Regions from separate parts of the Homo sapiens genome. Here region 1 is linked to region 2. The links come from fine-mapping of genetic effects on gene expression. Tissue or cell type: whole blood. Region 2 holds a variant in brackets; the other region holds the start of a gene. All regions are shown on one strand. Distances are between the middles of the regions.

Region 1 (8,097 bases), 26 kb before region 2:
TATGACCCTTTCCAGGTTTTCTTCACACACAAATACACACACACACACACACACACACAATGTAAATTGCACTTTTTTTTTTTTTTGGAGACATGGTCTTGCTGTGTCGCCCAGGCTGCAGTGCAGTGGCACCATCTCAGCCCACTGTGGCCTCAACCTCCCAGGTTCAAGTGATCCTCCCACCTCAGCCTCCCAAGTAGCTGTGACAACAGGCACAGGCTACCATGCCTGGCCTAATTTTATTTTTAGCAGAGATGAGGTCTCACTATGTTGCTCATGCTGGTCTGGAACTCGTGGGCTTAAGTGATCCTCCTGTCTCAGCCTCCCAAAATGCTGGGATTATGGGTGTAAGCCACGATACCTGGCCCTTTCCAGCCTTTCTTAGAAAAACCTTTTGAGTTACTTTTAGGAATATAAATTTATTCTAGGAAGTGGCAGCAAGGCCACTTGGGCTTTGCCCCTGGAGTTGTGTAGCAAGGCAAGCAATAGATGATATTTTGTAAAAAGTCTTGCAAAGTAAGCAGTCATTTATTTAGGCCTGTGATGTAATGTTACATCTAGGTTCTTTACCTTCATTTGAACCAACTTCCACAGTGAGCCTTGGCAGAAGGATGGTCCAGAGAGATGAAGGCATATCCTATATTTAGACATCAGAATGGGGTCTTCCTCAGGGCCTCTTTGGTCTGTCCTTCAATCTTGGGTCCATTGTGCTATTTAAAAATACCTTTTCCTCAGAGGATACACCTGTGTTCTGTGTCCTGAACAGGTCATTCCAGTAGTGGCTCGGATGATCTACGAGATGTTTTCTGGTGATTTCACACGATCCTTTGATAGTGGCAGTGTCCGCCTGCAGATCTCAACCCCAGACATCAAGGATAACATCGTTGCTCAGCTGAAGCAGCTGTACCGCATCCTTCAAACCCAGGAGAGCTGGCAGCCCATGCAGCCCACCCCCAGCATGCAACTGCCCCCTGCCCTGCCTCCCCAGTAATTGTGAATGCCATCTTCTTCCTTCTCTTTTTTATAATATTGTACATATGGATTTTTTTATTGTTTAGATTTAACCAGCTTTTAAATCTCTCTTTTCTCTAACAGTGTTAGAAGTTTGTGATTCTCCAAATATGCCTAGATTTAAAGCTGATTTAATTTATGGAAAAATCACCCTTCAGACTTTGCTTTTCTTTTTCAAATCTCCTAATGGTAGTATGATATAGCATAGTAGAAGGAGATTTGGCCTGGGAGTTTGGACACCAAAGTTCTAGCTGCAGCTTTGCTTCCAATGTGACCTTGAACAAGTCCTTTAACCTCTGGGCTTCAGATTTATTGCTTATAAAGTGAAGAGATTGGAGTAGTGCCTGAAATTGCATCCAGCTTTAGAACGGACTCAATGACCTTCTTCTACTTGTACAAGGCTAAACTGCCTGGAACAGAATCCTTCTGCATTGTTCTTGTACCACATTTTTCCTTGGTTTTGTTAAAGTTTCCTCAAGCACTGATTTGTCCAGGATCGAGCTCTGTTTGACCTGTTCTGCTAGTATAGTAAGCTGGCTCCCTGATGGGGGAAGTGAGAGGGAGAGGAGCTGGCTGGCTGGTTGCTTAGAAACTATGCTTGATATCTAAATAGAAATGGGTGCCAAAGTCTGAAAGTCACCCAGCCTGTGGAGTGAAAGCTCACAAATTTGGCTTCTAAAGGGAAGCTGTTGACACAGAAAGCCTAGGGATTCTGTGGAAGAATAGGTTGTCAGGCATTTACCTTATTACCACTCAAATACCAGTGTGTGTGTGTTGGGGGGGCGGCAGGGAGAGGGGGTAGGTGACAGTATGTGACTCAGGTGTTAGCTTTAAGAGGAAAGAGCTCTATTTTTCTTGTTTTCTTCTCTGAGCTAGACTGAGCTGGGGATCTAAGATGTACTTCTCTGACTACAAAAGGGACAGTATCATTTAGATTTTTTGCAGTTGGAAGAAATGGGTTGTTGAGTGTGTTAAGGCTGGGATGAAGAAGGGCTGGGCAGTACTCTTCTGGAAAGGCTCACCTAGCACGAACCTGCTTGTCTCCCTTACTAGTGGAGGTATCTGAGTGTGAACAGTGAAGGTAAAGAGTGGTATAGAACAATGCAGCTGTATCTGTCACAAACTGGTCTTATCTAGAAACATCTGCTGAGTCTCTAACCCTTTCAGCTTTCTCTTCTTTTTTGAGACAGAGTCTTGCTTTGTTGCCCAGGCTGGAGTGCAGTGGCAAGTCACCACTTACTGCAGCTTTAAGCTCCTGGGCTCAAGCAATCGTCCTGCCCCAGCCTCCTGAGTAGTTGGGACAACAGTCGTGCACTATGATGCTTGGCTAATTTTTTTTTTATTTTTGTAGAGATGAGGTCTTGCTATGTTGCCCAGGCTGGTCTTGAACTCCTGGGCTCAAGCAATCTGGGACCTAAATGGCAAATAAGATGCTAATCTGTGGTTGCAAGCCCCAGTCCTCTTGAATAGTGATGCCTATCTGTCTGTGTCGGGACATAGTAAGGAAGCCCATGTCTAGTCTGGTACCTTTAAACCAGGCCATCTCCAACTTTTCAAAATGACTCAAAAGTTGAGCTAGCCTTATTTTAAAAACTAAAAGTTCAAAATCAGTGGTGACATGAGGACTTATTTATTTAAAGTGCTTAAGCCTTGGTTTTAGAGTTTCTAAGAGACCTAGTGGAATTTGCTATTATGAAAAGCATGAAAAGATTAAGAAACCTGGCTAAAGGTCAGGTGCCCAGCTTCGAGGAAAAGTTGGGCTTTTAGGGACCGGGAAGCATTAAAGGCACAGAAACTTTACATTTTGGGGGTCATTTTGTTGAGTAGGTGAAGTGAGGGATTTGGGCTTGATATTTGGCTGCCCCATCTCTACGTGGGAACTCAAAGTTAAAAACCCACTGTAGGTAAATTAGAAGGGCAGCTCTTGAATCTGGGCCAGTCTATATCCCTTCTGTGAAGTGCTAACAGCCAGGCTATCTGTAGCCTGGGTGGGAGCCCAGATAATGTGAGCTGGTAAAGGGTATTGGAAAAGTGCCAAGAAATGCCAAGCTTTTGGTTCGTAACCACTATAAAAAGTTTATGAACATGTCAGAGGAATGGATGAGTGATTTGTGAGGTCTTAACTAGATACCCCGGTTTCTTCCTTGTTTTGGCTTCTTTTCAGAATGCCGGGAGAGTACATGCAGGGATTCCATCTAATCACCCTCAGCACTCTTTCTCTGGTCCTGCTGGATAGATTTAGATTTCCTTTCTTTTTTTAGGGCCTCAGTCTGCTATCTCCTTTGGTGGCTACCACCACTCACTCCCTTGATATCTTCTACTCCCTTGCCTTCACCTTGCTTAAGACTGAGAAGGGAGTTAGATTTTGTCACTAGCTCTTCTTTTTCCTCACTGTGTACCCCACCAAACAAGATTAGTTCAAGTTAAAAAGAACCTACTGGAGGTAAACTGGGAGAGCAAGTGTTGGATCTGGGCTGGTCCCTTTCCCATAAAATTAGGTCCCTGGTTGTATGTTCCCATAGCACCCCATACTTCCTCTCTCAGAATAATCATTTCCCTTGTAATGCTCAGCATCCGCATCCTGCTTGACTGCAAACTTGCTGAAGGTAGGGACTGTTTGTCTTGGACTTCGCTGCCAGTCCTTAGAACAGTGTCTGGGACACAGTGTGTTCTCAAATATTTGTTGCTGGAATAAATGAATGAACTAAATCAGTCTTTTAGGGATTTACTGTTAACCACCATGGGAAAATTAAATAAATGCGGGGAAGGAAAACGTTCTAAAATTAGAAGACTACTTTCTACTCTCAGCTTCTGATTCCCTCTGAGCTAAGAACCAGACAGCCTTAGGCTGGTAACTCCTATAAGCTGGTCCTCCTCCCATGCTGACCCCATCTTTACTGTACAATTCACTTTTCATGGACTGAAGGCACCACCAAGATAGATCCAGGAGTGACAACTCCAGTGTAGGTGTCCACTGTTCCCTTAATCTCTGTCCTGCTCCAAGTATAAATAAATTGGGGCCATTTCCTTAGATATTGGGGTTTTCTCAAGAAATCCTTTCCCTTCGTGGCATGGGTCAAATCGCTGGTAGTTAAAAAGGTGTTAACTCTTACGTGAAATAACACTTTTTCTTTGTAATGACCTGACTGGAAAGCCTCTGTGTCATCACTTCTCATTTCTTATTTGAAATCAGCAAACTGGATTCAGTAGACATGAACTTAAGCCCCATGAAAGTGGGGGTTTTGTCTGTTTTGCTCACTGCAGTACCTCCAGGGCCTAGCAGCATGACTGGCACATATTTGTTCAAAGTGAATACTCACACCTTCACACCCTCCCTAGAGAGCTGTTGTAGGCCTCTCAAATGTAGGATTTAGGGAAGTCAAGTTAAAAAAAATTAAAACGTTTCAGCACCACCCACAGGTGAGGCTATTCTGCAAAATATGTTGTCTTGAGGTATGTTTCGTCTGGACAAAACGTATTTCCACAGACACAAATCAAAGGTGTTTATTAACTGCTGTGTGCCCTGTTTCTGGATTCCCAGTCAAGTGGGACACCAGACGTCATAACACAGGGAGGACGTTCGGCGAAGCAAAATGAGGGCAGCAGCGGGAAACCAGTTTCACCAGGTTCCGCCTTTTCTCGTTTACTTCCGCCCTTCCCAGTTCCTAAGCCGACAGATGGGGCCGCGTTCAGTCTGGCCGGAAAGGGCGGGCCGCACGGTGGCCCAAACTTCCGGCGCGCAGTAAGGCTGCCTAGCTAGTGATTCTAACGCGAGGCGCGCGAGCGGCTGGATGACGTCACGGAATGGGGGGAAAGAGGGCGGCACTCGAGTGGGTGCGCATGCGCAAGAAGGTGCCTGCGGGACTGGAGCAGAGCGGGCTGCGAGGGTCTTCCCAGCGCAGGCGGGTTTTCCAGTGTTACTTGCGGCTGGGCGTGGGGGACTAGCTGCCTTTCTGGCAGCAGGCAGGAAGCCGCAAAAAGTTTCTGAGCCCCCGAACCTGTAGCGGACGTGGAAAAAGAACGTATGTGAGACAGACTTATGCCTCATTTAGCAAATCACTATAACATGCTCTGGTGTGGGGTGTGTGGATCGGAGAAATCTCATCTTCCGAGGGTCCTTGATGTCGGACAGAAAGGGAAGGCGGGGCCAGCAGAAGTTAAAATACTACCCTTCTGCAGTTCTAGTGGATTTCATTCATTCATTTTTATGTGTCAGGGTGAGATGGTTGTTAGTCCACATTCTGGTGTATATTAATCAAATTACTATTCTTATAACTATTCTCTGGCGGGAAGAGTAGGGGAGTTGTCAGTGGAAAGGATACATTTGGAACTTGGAGCTCTGTCCCAGAAGGGCTTTTGGGCGAAATGCTGTGAATTTTGCCAAACACTGCCCCGCCTCCGCCTCTGCCCCAAATTCCCTACGGTTTGAACCAGAGAACGTAATTTGCAACAGGTGAAATTTAGAATAAAAGCCAGAGGGAATATAAATCTAGCTATAAGGCTAGAAAAACACACGAATTTATGATTGAGGGAGACCAAGTCAACCAGAAAAATCAAGCAGCATCGGTGAAACTATCTTGTCTGGGCTGGGTCGCCATTTCAAAGCAGGGAGGGACAGAATAACCTTTGGAAGATACCGCGATTTAACAGGAAGGCTGTTAATAATTCCCTGCTCCTGCTTTGTTTCTAGGCCCCTCCTCAAGTGTCTGGCTGAAAGATGCCACCCAGGGAAGGGAACTCGGGCTAGCTAAGGAGGCCATTCTTGATGTTGCTTCTAGATCTCATGTCATCACCGAGCCCTCAGCTGCTGGTGGCAGCTGCTCAGCAGACCCTTGGCATGGGAAAGAGACGGAGTCCACCCCAAGCCATCTGCCTTCACTTAGCTGGAGAGGTGCTGGCTGTGGCCCGGGGACTGAAGCCAGCTGTGCTCTATGATTGCAACTGTGCAGGGGCATCAGAGCTCCAGAGCTATCTGGAGGAGCTGAAGGGGCTTGGCTTCCTGACTTTTGGACTTCACATCCTTGAGATTGGAGAAAACAGCCTGATTGTCAGTCCTGAGCATGTATGTCAGCACTTGGAGCAGGTGCTGCTTGGTACCATAGCCTTTGTGGATGTTTCCAGCTGCCAGCGTCACCCTTCTGTCTGCTCCCTGGACCAGCTTCAGGACTTGAAGGCCCTCGTGGCTGAGATCATCACACATTTGCAGGGGCTGCAGAGGGACTTATCTCTAGCAGTCTCCTACAGCAGGCTCCATTCCTCAGACTGGAATCTGTGTACTGTATTTGGGATCCTCCTGGGCTATCCTGTTCCCTATACCTTTCACCTGAACCAGGGAGATGACAACTGCTTAGCTCTGACTCCACTACGAGTATTCACTGCCCGGATCTCATGGTTGCTAGGTCAACCCCCAATCCTGCTCTATTCTTTTAGTGTCCCAGAGAGTTTGTTCCCAGGCCTGAGGGACATTCTAAACACCTGGGAGAAGGACCTCAGAACCCGATTTAGGACTCAGAATGACTTTGCTGATCTCAGCATCTCCTCTGAGATAGTCACACTGCCGGCTGTGGCCCTCTGACTTTAACTCTCCTCCCATATAGAAGGTACTCAGTAAATGATCATCTCTAGGTTGGGGATGGCAAATAATCATCTCAACTGCCAATTCCAAGTGTCTTGAATACACTAAGGCACAATGCTGTAGATCAGTTGGCCACAAATGCAAAGGGCATGTAAATAGGTAATGGTGGTGCTAGTAGCAAATTGGTAGATAGTACATACTTGCCATTTCTATACTAGGAAGTCCTCTTAGTGGAGATGTTTTCATTTTCACTGGATAAAAGATAGAAGGAAGGAGATGATAGAGGAAAAGCAGGGTGATGGAAGACAAGCCAAACACTCTTGCATGGTAACCTTGTAAATATACCTGCTCTATGTGGGTGCTGCATGCTAGGAAAGTAGGGCTGGGGGCTTTTCTGCATGTTTATATGCCTCCAACTGAATTTGAGGAGAGTAGACCACCAGTATGCTTAAATATGTGATACTTGTTAATGTAATACACCATTCAGGAATAAACTGAGAGTTCTGAGGAACAATCTGGTCAGGTGAAGTTTATTTACAGTAGGTTAAGAAATTAATAAAAAGTCAGAAATCCTAAGTCAGTTGGAAAACCCAAGCTGTAATGTACCCAAACCTTCTGAGTTTTTCGCTGAGTTGCTTGCTTCTGATTTTCACCCAAGGCAGTTGTCACAAATTATTCAGATCATCAGGTTGTCTTTATTGGCCAGGAACACTGCCAGTGCTGCAGCAATCACCACCATCAGCACTGGGAGCCATCGCCCACATTGCCTCTGTAGGGGGACAGGGAGACAGAAGAAAGTGGCCATGAGTGGATTGGAAAAGATATAGGCAAAAATCTTTCTTCTTCCTACTCTAGCCCAGTGGAAAACGCTGGGTTGGTGGTGGAGAAAAAGCTTTTTACTCTGTCTCCCATTTTGTCACCTGTCTTGGGATAAAACCACTTAACCAATGTTCTCTGGCCCAGGGAGCCGTATCCATCAGGGACCAGATATATAAATACTGATATGAATAATGAAGGGTGGAAAATAACCCAGCAAAATTATATTCTTTCTTTGTATTCCCCAGTACTTTTGTGTCCTTCTGTTCTTGCCACCATGCTTATCATCGGCTAAAAGAACACCCTTTCATACTTTAGCTAAGAGTAAGTCTTTCCTTCTGGCATTGAGAGTTCTGTGAAAGTTGGGCTTTGATGGACGAGCCAGTGTTTTTTTCAATGGTTGCCATAATGTCAGTATAGTATAAACCAAGCACAGTGGGACAGGATGGCCAGTTGTTGGCGTGGGCTGATATATTTTATGTGCAAAACTTGGTTAAAGAAGGAATCGTCCCATCATCCAGGGCTTTATGGGAAGGAGAGACCCTCTTACTCTGGGAGGCAGCTGCTGGCTCTGGTTCAGCTCTTCTCGACAGTGCTGCAGCTTACGCAGGCAGGAGAGATACTCGTCACTGAGGTTGTCTAATTCTGAATGCAGTTCTCTGCACTGGGGAGAACATCACCAAAGTCATCACTGT
Region 2 (8,106 bases):
GGCTTCCTCTTTCTTAATTAAGGCGGACATGGAAATTCATTGTGTTCTCTCTAGAGAGGAATGGATGGGATGTGAGAGGGTTAGGGTCAGGAACTCACTTGGTTTGCTGACTGGCATCGTTCTTAATTGTTGGTCCTTCTGCCTTTGTCTGAGTACCTGAGAGATGGAGGATAAGTTGATTTAGAACTTACAGGGAGGAAGTGAGGGAAGTGGGGAGGGACAGGGACTCTCCATTGCCAGTGAGCTGGGACAGTTGTCTCAGGATTCTCTGCAGGCCCTGTGGAGTGAGGGAGGCTCTGCTCTTACCACGGTGGTGTTTGGGTGGCTTCTTGATGGGAGTGTCCTGTGGAGGAAGGCCCCCAGCCTGTGAGGAGAGGTGGTCAGACAGATCCCTGCAGATGCCTGAGGGAGGAGGATGCTGGGCTGGAAAGACTTCAGAGCTGGTGCCTGTCACCTGGAAGGCAAGTGGGGAATGCTGAAAACCACTGCCTGGAGCCTCTTGAAAGACTCTCCTGATGATTTCGGAAGGAAGAACTAACCATCATGTTTGTTATGGACTGAGTGTTTATTGTCCCCCCGCCCAAATCTGTGTGTTGAAATCCTATCTCCCAATGTGATAGTATTAGGAGGTGGAGACTTTGAGAAATAATTAGGTCAGAGCAGGTAGCCCTCATGAATGGGATTAGTGCCATTATTAGAAGAGACACGAGAGAGCTTGCTTTCTCTCTCTGCTCTCTGCCTTGTGAGGACACAATGAGAAGAAGGCCATCTGCATAGTGGGAAGAGTGCTCTCATCAGACACCAGATCTGCAGAATCCATGGGTTTAGAACTCCAGACTCCAGAATTGTAAGAAATAAATTTCTGTTATTTAAGCCACCCAGTCTGTGGTAATTCATTACAGGACGAAGACAATGTTTCAGATCCACAAAACCAAAGTAGCCCACTCAAGCTTTCAGAGCCACACAGGCTTCTCCTGCTCCTGATATCCTTGTCCTGACTGGCAGAAATGGTCCTCCTCAGGCCAGGCATATGTGGAGCTGTACTTTTCTCCAGGTTTTCTCTCTAGAATCTCTAGTTGTTGTTTTTTTTTCTCTCTCTACCTTGTTTGGTTATGGCCACTTACATAGCCAGCATGGTGATGTGGAAAGAGAACTGGTCTGAGTGGGGAGTGAGGGGATCTGGGTTCAGATCCCATCTTTTCTAGGTCTCAGTCTTCTGTCTGTGTAGTGAGGAGTTTGGAATAGATAATCCATAAGGTTCCTTCCATATTCAAAGGAAAGCCTCCTTTCTCTTAGTAACAGCTAGAAAATCATTGAGGTTTTGTGTGAAGACTAGGTAAAGTGGGGAGTTGTGGGAAGGTTTTTTGCTTTAGTATACAGTTCCTTTTCTTTTGCAACTGGGCTCTAGGATCATTTCTCTGAACAGCATCTCCTATTGAGCATAACAGATCCACTAGTTAAGAAGCCCTGATAGAGTACCCACTCTGGGTAGGGAACAATGCCAAGCATTACCATGGAACATAGTGGACACATCCCTGCTGTCAACATGCTCACAACTTCAGTAGGAAGATGGTTTGCTGGCCAAGGTCATCTCAGCATACCCTGGTTTTTGCCAACATTGTTCCTTTCCAGGCCAGACTAATGGGCCCTCTAAGGGTTACACAATCTTAGAAGATTTTAACCTCACAAGGCCCATAGACAGCAGAGGTGGCCTGGAGAAGCCAGGGAAAGCTTCCTGGACCAGATGAGGCTATAGTCAAGTGATTTAATAGAATTGGAATGACACAAGAGGAAGTGAGAAGAGTGGGCACAACAGCCTTGCAGAAGAAAAGAGGACAGATATGTCTGTGTGTGTGTCAAGAAGACTGGCCTGTGTGCTTGGCATATAATAAGCTTTCAGTAAATATTTGATGACTGATGGATGAATGAATGCTGTAAGATAGCTGTAGAAGACATGTGTATATTGCCTAAATTTGAACTGATATAGGCATTAGCTTTGGAATTATTTTTATTTATTTTATTTTTAAGTTTTTTAGAGATAGGGTCTCCCTCTCTTGCCCAGGCTGGAGTGCAATGGTGTGATCATAGCTTATTGCAGCTTCAAACTCCTGGGTTCAAGTAATCCTCCCATCTTTGCCTCCTGATTAGTTAGGACTACAGGTGTGCACCACCATGCCTGGTTAGTTTGTAAAGTTTTTGATAGAGACAGGGTCTTGTCTCTATCAAAAGGCTGGTCTCGAACTCCTGGCCTCAAGTGATCCTCCTGCCTTGGCCTCCCAAAGTACTGGGATTACAGGTATAAGCCAACATGCCCAGCCTGAAATTGTTTTTAAAAATTATTTTTTCTCTCTTATAAGTCAAGTGCAGAACAAAAAGAGCTAAACAAACGAAAACACAACAGCAAAAATCTCTGAATAAGTAGCTGTTGGCAACTTTACTATAAGTAGCTCTTGGCAACTTTACTATATGACTGAGGAAGAAGGACTTGATTTAGGTCACTTTTTAGTGACCTTGAGCCCACCCACCCTCCTTGTCCAGAGAGGGTCCCAGAGCACACAGCAGTATGTCCCTTGACACGGCCCACCTGCTCTCTGGGAGAAGAAATCCTTCTGGCACAAGACAAGGGTTCCTTGAGGACAGTCACCTGTCCTGGCCGCCTGGAGGGCCCTTGCTCCCTGGCCTGGGGATGCTGCGCTTTGCCCTTCTCCTCTAGCTCCAGGTTCCTCCTCCTGAAGAACTGCTGCAGTCGAGCTCTCTGGAGCTGCTCTCTCTGTTGGATCCTCAGCGTCTTCCCCACCTGGCGGCAAGTGGTCACATTGGGACGGCAGCGGCGGCTTTCACGGATCTCTTGCCTGCGCTCACACTTGGCCTCATAGCTCTCAGCCCACCGGGCCAAGCCAGGGGAGGGCCTGGGGTCTGGGCTGATCATGATGACCTCCAAGCACCTGTTGCGCTTGGCTTCCAGTTCCTGGAATAGATGCCTGGATCTGCCAAATGCCAAGAGGGAGGAGAAGGGGAGGGGTCAGAAGATGGGCAGAAAAATGACTATCTCCCTAGACCAGGGGGCAGAAATAGCACAGAGTTCCATCCATGTGGGTTGAAAACTGAGGACATGGTGGTATCAAAGTGGGAGTCAGGACTCTTGGGCTCAGTCTCTAATGAACTAATACAGTCTTATAAAAGTGAATTCCTGCTTTTCTCTAGCCGATGTTTCCCCTTTGTAAAGTAAAAGGGTCTCTATGGCTGCCACTTACTCCTTGACTGAACATCTTACCATGCCTCTGAGTCAGGGGAACATGAGAAATAATTGATTAAAATCATAATGAGCTTATAGCCTCTTGGATGGCAGGTGTGTGTTCATTTTCCAGACTTCTAGAGAAGCAGCTAAGTTGAGCCAATCTGCCCTCTTATCCCCCAGTTGAAAAGGAAAGTCAGTATCTTTACTGGTCTCTTGGTCCAAGCTGTCACTAACATAGTTGAGTGACACTTCTCAAGGATCTGGAGGGCTAACCACACCCCCTCAGGTGGTGACCAGTCCTGTGACCAGCACCCACTGCTCTCTTCTTGACTTTTAGCAACGAGCTTGTGAGCCTGGACCTGGCATGGTTTAGGAGGGAAACCCTACCCTAATTCCTCCAACCTGCTGTCCTGACAATGGTCCATGGGCCCCCCACTCCAAGCTCAGGACTGGGCTGTGTCTCTCAGGTGCAGATCAAGTCCAATCAATATTGACTGAGCATCTGCCACATGCCTAGTGCTGGCCAAAACCCATTTCAGAGCATCTGGCTCCAATACTGTTGGGGCTGAGGGTTCCATTTCTTTAGGATTACCAACCTGTCAGGGTTAATGTTGGTGCCAAGTCTGCTTTCCTTAGCCCAGACACAGATTGTGCCATCCAAACCCACAAGCACATGAATTGTACCTCAATAAGGCTGCTGCAAACAGAAAAGAAACAAAACAAAGACAGTAATCAGAAGTTTCCAGGGAGCCAGGCTTGGTGTAGGGGCCACAGGATGACCCTCTGCATGGCCTTACCTGATATTCACATAGCACCTAGACCTGAATCCCCTTTTCCTTCTCTGTGCCTTTCTCTTTCCTACTCTTCCCCACCTACCTTCTGTAGTTTATCCTCCTAGAACCCTCTGGTCACTTTGCTGAGTTGGGCTGGATTTGGATGAGCTGGATCCTGAGCGTTGGAAATTCTGTGTCCTGCCTCCTCTGATCACTGGAGTCAGACCAGGGACTGATGAAGGAAGAGGGACTCCCCCTCACAGCTGCTGCTGCTTC[T/C]CTTCCTCCCACGACCTCATTACCCACCACCCTGGGAGGAGGGTATCTCAGCTTCACCAACTAGCAGGCATTTGCTAGCTCTAACCCCTTGGGGTTTATTTATAGGCCAAACAGACTCAACAGGTAGCAGACTCTCTGCCCCTTTACTGGGACTTCGCTACTCTGGCTCAGTCTGGAATTCTCTGCAGGATTCTTGTTTTCTCTCTGATCCTACCACTCATTCCCCAGGGTCATGGGTGGGGCAGTCTTCTTCCCTGAGAGGAGTTTTGTGTGGTCAAGCCCTGGACACTCAAATGCCTGACTCTTGAGGGTTGGAGGGGCATACTCTGGTGTCAGGCAGCATTGATTCCAAGCAGAAATGTGAGGTTATTAATGTTTGTCCTCTACATACCCATTCTGAATGGCTCTCTTCTTTGTTTTTCCTTACTTCTTCTTCTCGGATAAGGGTGGGAGTGGGCATAGGGGGTGGTCCCTTGACTTCTTCCCTGCCACTTTCTTTATTTAAAGACTTAAAAGAAAGGGTCTGAGAGACCCATGTCTATTGTTATAAATGACTGAATGGAGGAGACGCAGGATTATGTGCATGTGAACTCCATGTCTAGAACCTACACTCACAGCATCCCTGAGCCACAGCCCCTGGCTATTCTGCCATGGATTGCAGTGGAGAACCCTGGCTCTTGGAGTCACACTGCGTGGACTCATGTCCTGGCTCTGTCACCTACAACCTGTGTGTGTTTTTAGATAAGCTATTAAACATCTCTAAGCCCCAGTCTCCTCATTTATAAAATGGGGCTAGGACCTGCCTTGTAGGTTATAAGGATTAAATGACAAAATGCAGGCCATGCACCTGGCATGGAGCACACAATAAATGTTACCTTTTAATAATAAAGACATAAAGTATTCCTATTAGGTTGGTGCAAAAGTAATTGCGAATATTATCCTTGTTATGCCGATGTTGGATATTGAAGACTTGGTGCTGTAAGACAAAGGCTCCAAGCTAAACTAGCACTTCTAGGACCAAGAATGCCTTCTCTCATCCTCTCAACCCTCTCTCTCTTTGACAGAGTATATTGTTTACCAGATTGAGGGGATGCTGGCCCCAGGCTGAAGTCACATTTACTTCTGACCTCTGGGTTTGGGCTATAAGGAGAAAGGCTTCTCTGTGGTCTGGACATAATTGCCATCCCAATTACACCAAGCCGAAAGGTAAGGAAGAGATGGGGTCTGCCTGTGTCACACATAAGGTGTGAGGTCCCCTCCCTGTTTGGCTCAGCTTCCCCACAGGTTTTGTAGTGGAGGCAGAACATTGAGAATCCTCCTACCTTCTTGCCGCGAAGAGGAAAGGGCTGTGGGGGAGAAGACAGTGCCTGAGATGAGGTCTCTCTGGGCTCTCCACCCAGGCCACCAACCTTAGTCCACTGAAACACACAGCTGCTCTGCTCTCTGCTTCCTTGGGGCAGACATGGAGCCTTCTTACCCAAGAAAGGAGCTGCAGTGGAAATGGCTCCTTAGAGAGGGGAGTGTTCCCAGATGCCTTGGCTACCACACCTGCTAGGATTTGGTGCAGCATGCTGCATAGAACCCTACCCAGGTTTCTGGGATATCTGGACCCTACTGACTTGCTTGAAAACAAGAAGGTATGTGGGACGGCTGACAGGGGTAGGCTGCTAAAGAAAAGGGAACTGGTCCCTGTAGGGTTCAAAGAAAGATCACTTGGCCACTGCCCAGGCTTTCTGGCATCTCTCAGGTTCCCCCCTGGCAGCATGACTGGGCTCACTTAGAGCTTGGAGGAAGAAGGTTTACTGGCTGGGAAGGCTCAGCCTGGTCTCTCAGGCTGCAGAGAGAGAACAGGGCATGGCTCCTCACCTGACTGTGGCTTGACATGCCTTTCTGAGTCTCGCTTTTACTTCCTGGCCATGTTTGTAATGGAGACAATGAATGGCTTCCTGCATGGGTTGGCCTTCCTGGCCCAGAGCTCTCAGTGTGAACTGAGGGGAGAGGGGCCTGCGCTTAAGCTGCTGGGAAGGCAGTCTTGTGTTCAGGGATCCCTGCTTTGAAGAAAACTGTAAAAGGTCATTTAATTCATGCCCATATCACTGGGTAGCCTGAACTCTAAGTCGTTTGACTCACTCCTAATCTAATGTAATCTAATCTACTGGAACAGAGGAGTGGTGCAAGCTGTACCCTGTGCCATGGCTAGCGCCACAGGAAACCAATACAGGATACTTTCTTGGTTACCCAAACCCCTGACACCCTTAAACTATGCCACCCACTCTCCACCCAGGGGAGCTGGGATGGTAGAGCATCTTCTGCCCTACCCCGAAGTTGGAGTTCCCAAACCTGGACACAAAAGCATCCTCCTTCTCAGTTACCTCCTAGTCCCAGGCTCCAACTCAAGCCACTCGGGAAAGCATTCCAGTCCTGGGCAGATCTTGGCTCTGGTCTCAGATGGAGCAAGACAGCAGATGGGTAAAGCACACGCTTTCAATCCATAGGTCTGGGCCCCATTAACACGTCCCTTCTTGGTACCGTCTTTCTTTTTGCACAGCAGCCTTGCTGAAACAGGAAACAGACAAAGCCACAAGGTTCGCAAACCCCAGTTCCTCTCTCTTGCTCTCTGGTATCATCTAAGTGGGCCCCTGAACTCTGAGGCCTCCAGGGCTGGGCTCAGGAGCTCCTCCCATCAGTAGGCACCCCGGCCACCCTTTCTCTTGCTACTGGATTGGTCGGAGCTCTTGGACAGTTTCAAGTCAAGATTCCTTTCCATGATTAGAAAAGGATAGTCCTCTGGGTCAGATTCAGACCTTTGTGGTTTCTATGAGAGGGAAAAAAATGCCTTTTTGGTGGTAAGACCTAGATGAGATGTTCTCAGTGTAGGCTTTCATGTGTATCAGGTAGTTCTTTGTGTAAGGATTTTCCTTTTTCTTTAGCCACCTCTTCCCAATCCTGGTGTTGTAAAGAGTTTCTGCTCTTCTGAAGTAGGTGGTGTCTTTCTCAGATTCTGGAATGAGACCAACTCTGGATTTGCTCCTTTCTGGAGCAATGAGGAGGGAGTGTAAAGGTGGGTAGCTGGGGGATGAAGGAAGGAATAGAAGGCAGAGTCTTCTACACATTTTTTTATCTGGTCAACCGGACTAGGAAATTTAGGGAAAAACTAAAGGGAACTGATTTGCATGCATTAAGATGAAGCCATCACAAATGATGCAGCCAGGAAATTCCCAAGAAGTTCAGGCTAAAATAGTGGAGAGGAAACTGGATTGGGACAAGTTAACTGAGCAGCTTTGTAACCTTGTAAAATTCACCTTGTCTGGATGCTACTCACTGTGGTAGTTGGGTGATGTATGTGGCTCTTTGGAATTCTAAGGTTTGACACATGTGAGGCAGGTAATGAGACTTAAAAATAGCTGTGATAACATTTATTAACATGTGGAGAGTTTGTCACCATTTTCTCTGCTTCTGCTTCTTTCTCTGTTCTTTGAGGAGAAAAAGGACAAGGAATCGGCAGGGAAAAGCAGAGGATGGATTCTCAAGCACTAGGACTGAAGACAAGTGGCATTTACTCAGGATGAGAGACAACAGCTCAAGGCCCTGTGTCTGGAGCTTGACACATAGAGATGGGAATGAGTAGAGGACAGAGGGCTTGGGGAGCCCAAGATGTCAGAAAAAGAGAATTTTGGCCGGGCACAGTGGCTCACACCTGTAATCCCAGCACTTTGGGAGGTCCAGGTGGGTGGATCACTTGAGGTCAAGAGTTCAAGACTAGCCTGGCCAACATGGTGAAACCCCATCTCTACCAAAAATATAAAAAATTAGCCGGAT

The links. PIP is the estimated chance that this variant, and not a neighbour inherited with it, causes the effect.
Region 1: C1orf74 starts here. The variant in region 2 is fine-mapped to the expression of C1orf74 in whole blood (TOPMed, PIP above 0.99).

Annotation. Positions count from the first base shown.
Region 1 is chr1:209,781,314-209,789,410 of GRCh38, reverse strand. C1orf74 (chromosome 1 open reading frame 74) reads left to right here and starts at 4,852. Exons shown (of 2, transcript NM_152485.4): 1 at 4,852-5,033; 2 at 5,702-8,097. The coding sequence starts at 5,777. The coding sequence ends at 6,586. It overlaps TRAF3IP3 (TRAF3 interacting protein 3), which reads right to left. Exons shown (of 17, transcript NM_025228.4): 16 at 7,953-8,066; 17 at 7,101-7,355. The coding sequence ends at 7,263. IRF6 (interferon regulatory factor 6) reads left to right here. Exons shown (of 9, transcript NM_006147.4): 9 at 767-3,794. The coding sequence ends at 991. RefSeq lists enhancers at 3,914-4,529, 4,714-4,973, 4,530-5,147.
Region 2 is chr1:209,754,863-209,762,968 of GRCh38, reverse strand. It overlaps TRAF3IP3 (TRAF3 interacting protein 3), which reads right to left and starts at 6,916. Exons shown (of 17, transcript NM_025228.4): 1 at 6,660-6,916; 2 at 3,835-3,935; 3 at 2,585-2,987; 4 at 307-454; 5 at 99-156. The coding sequence starts at 2,929. RefSeq lists enhancers at 6,344-6,753, 7,034-7,193. The variant T/C (reference allele first, on the strand shown) is at 4,288.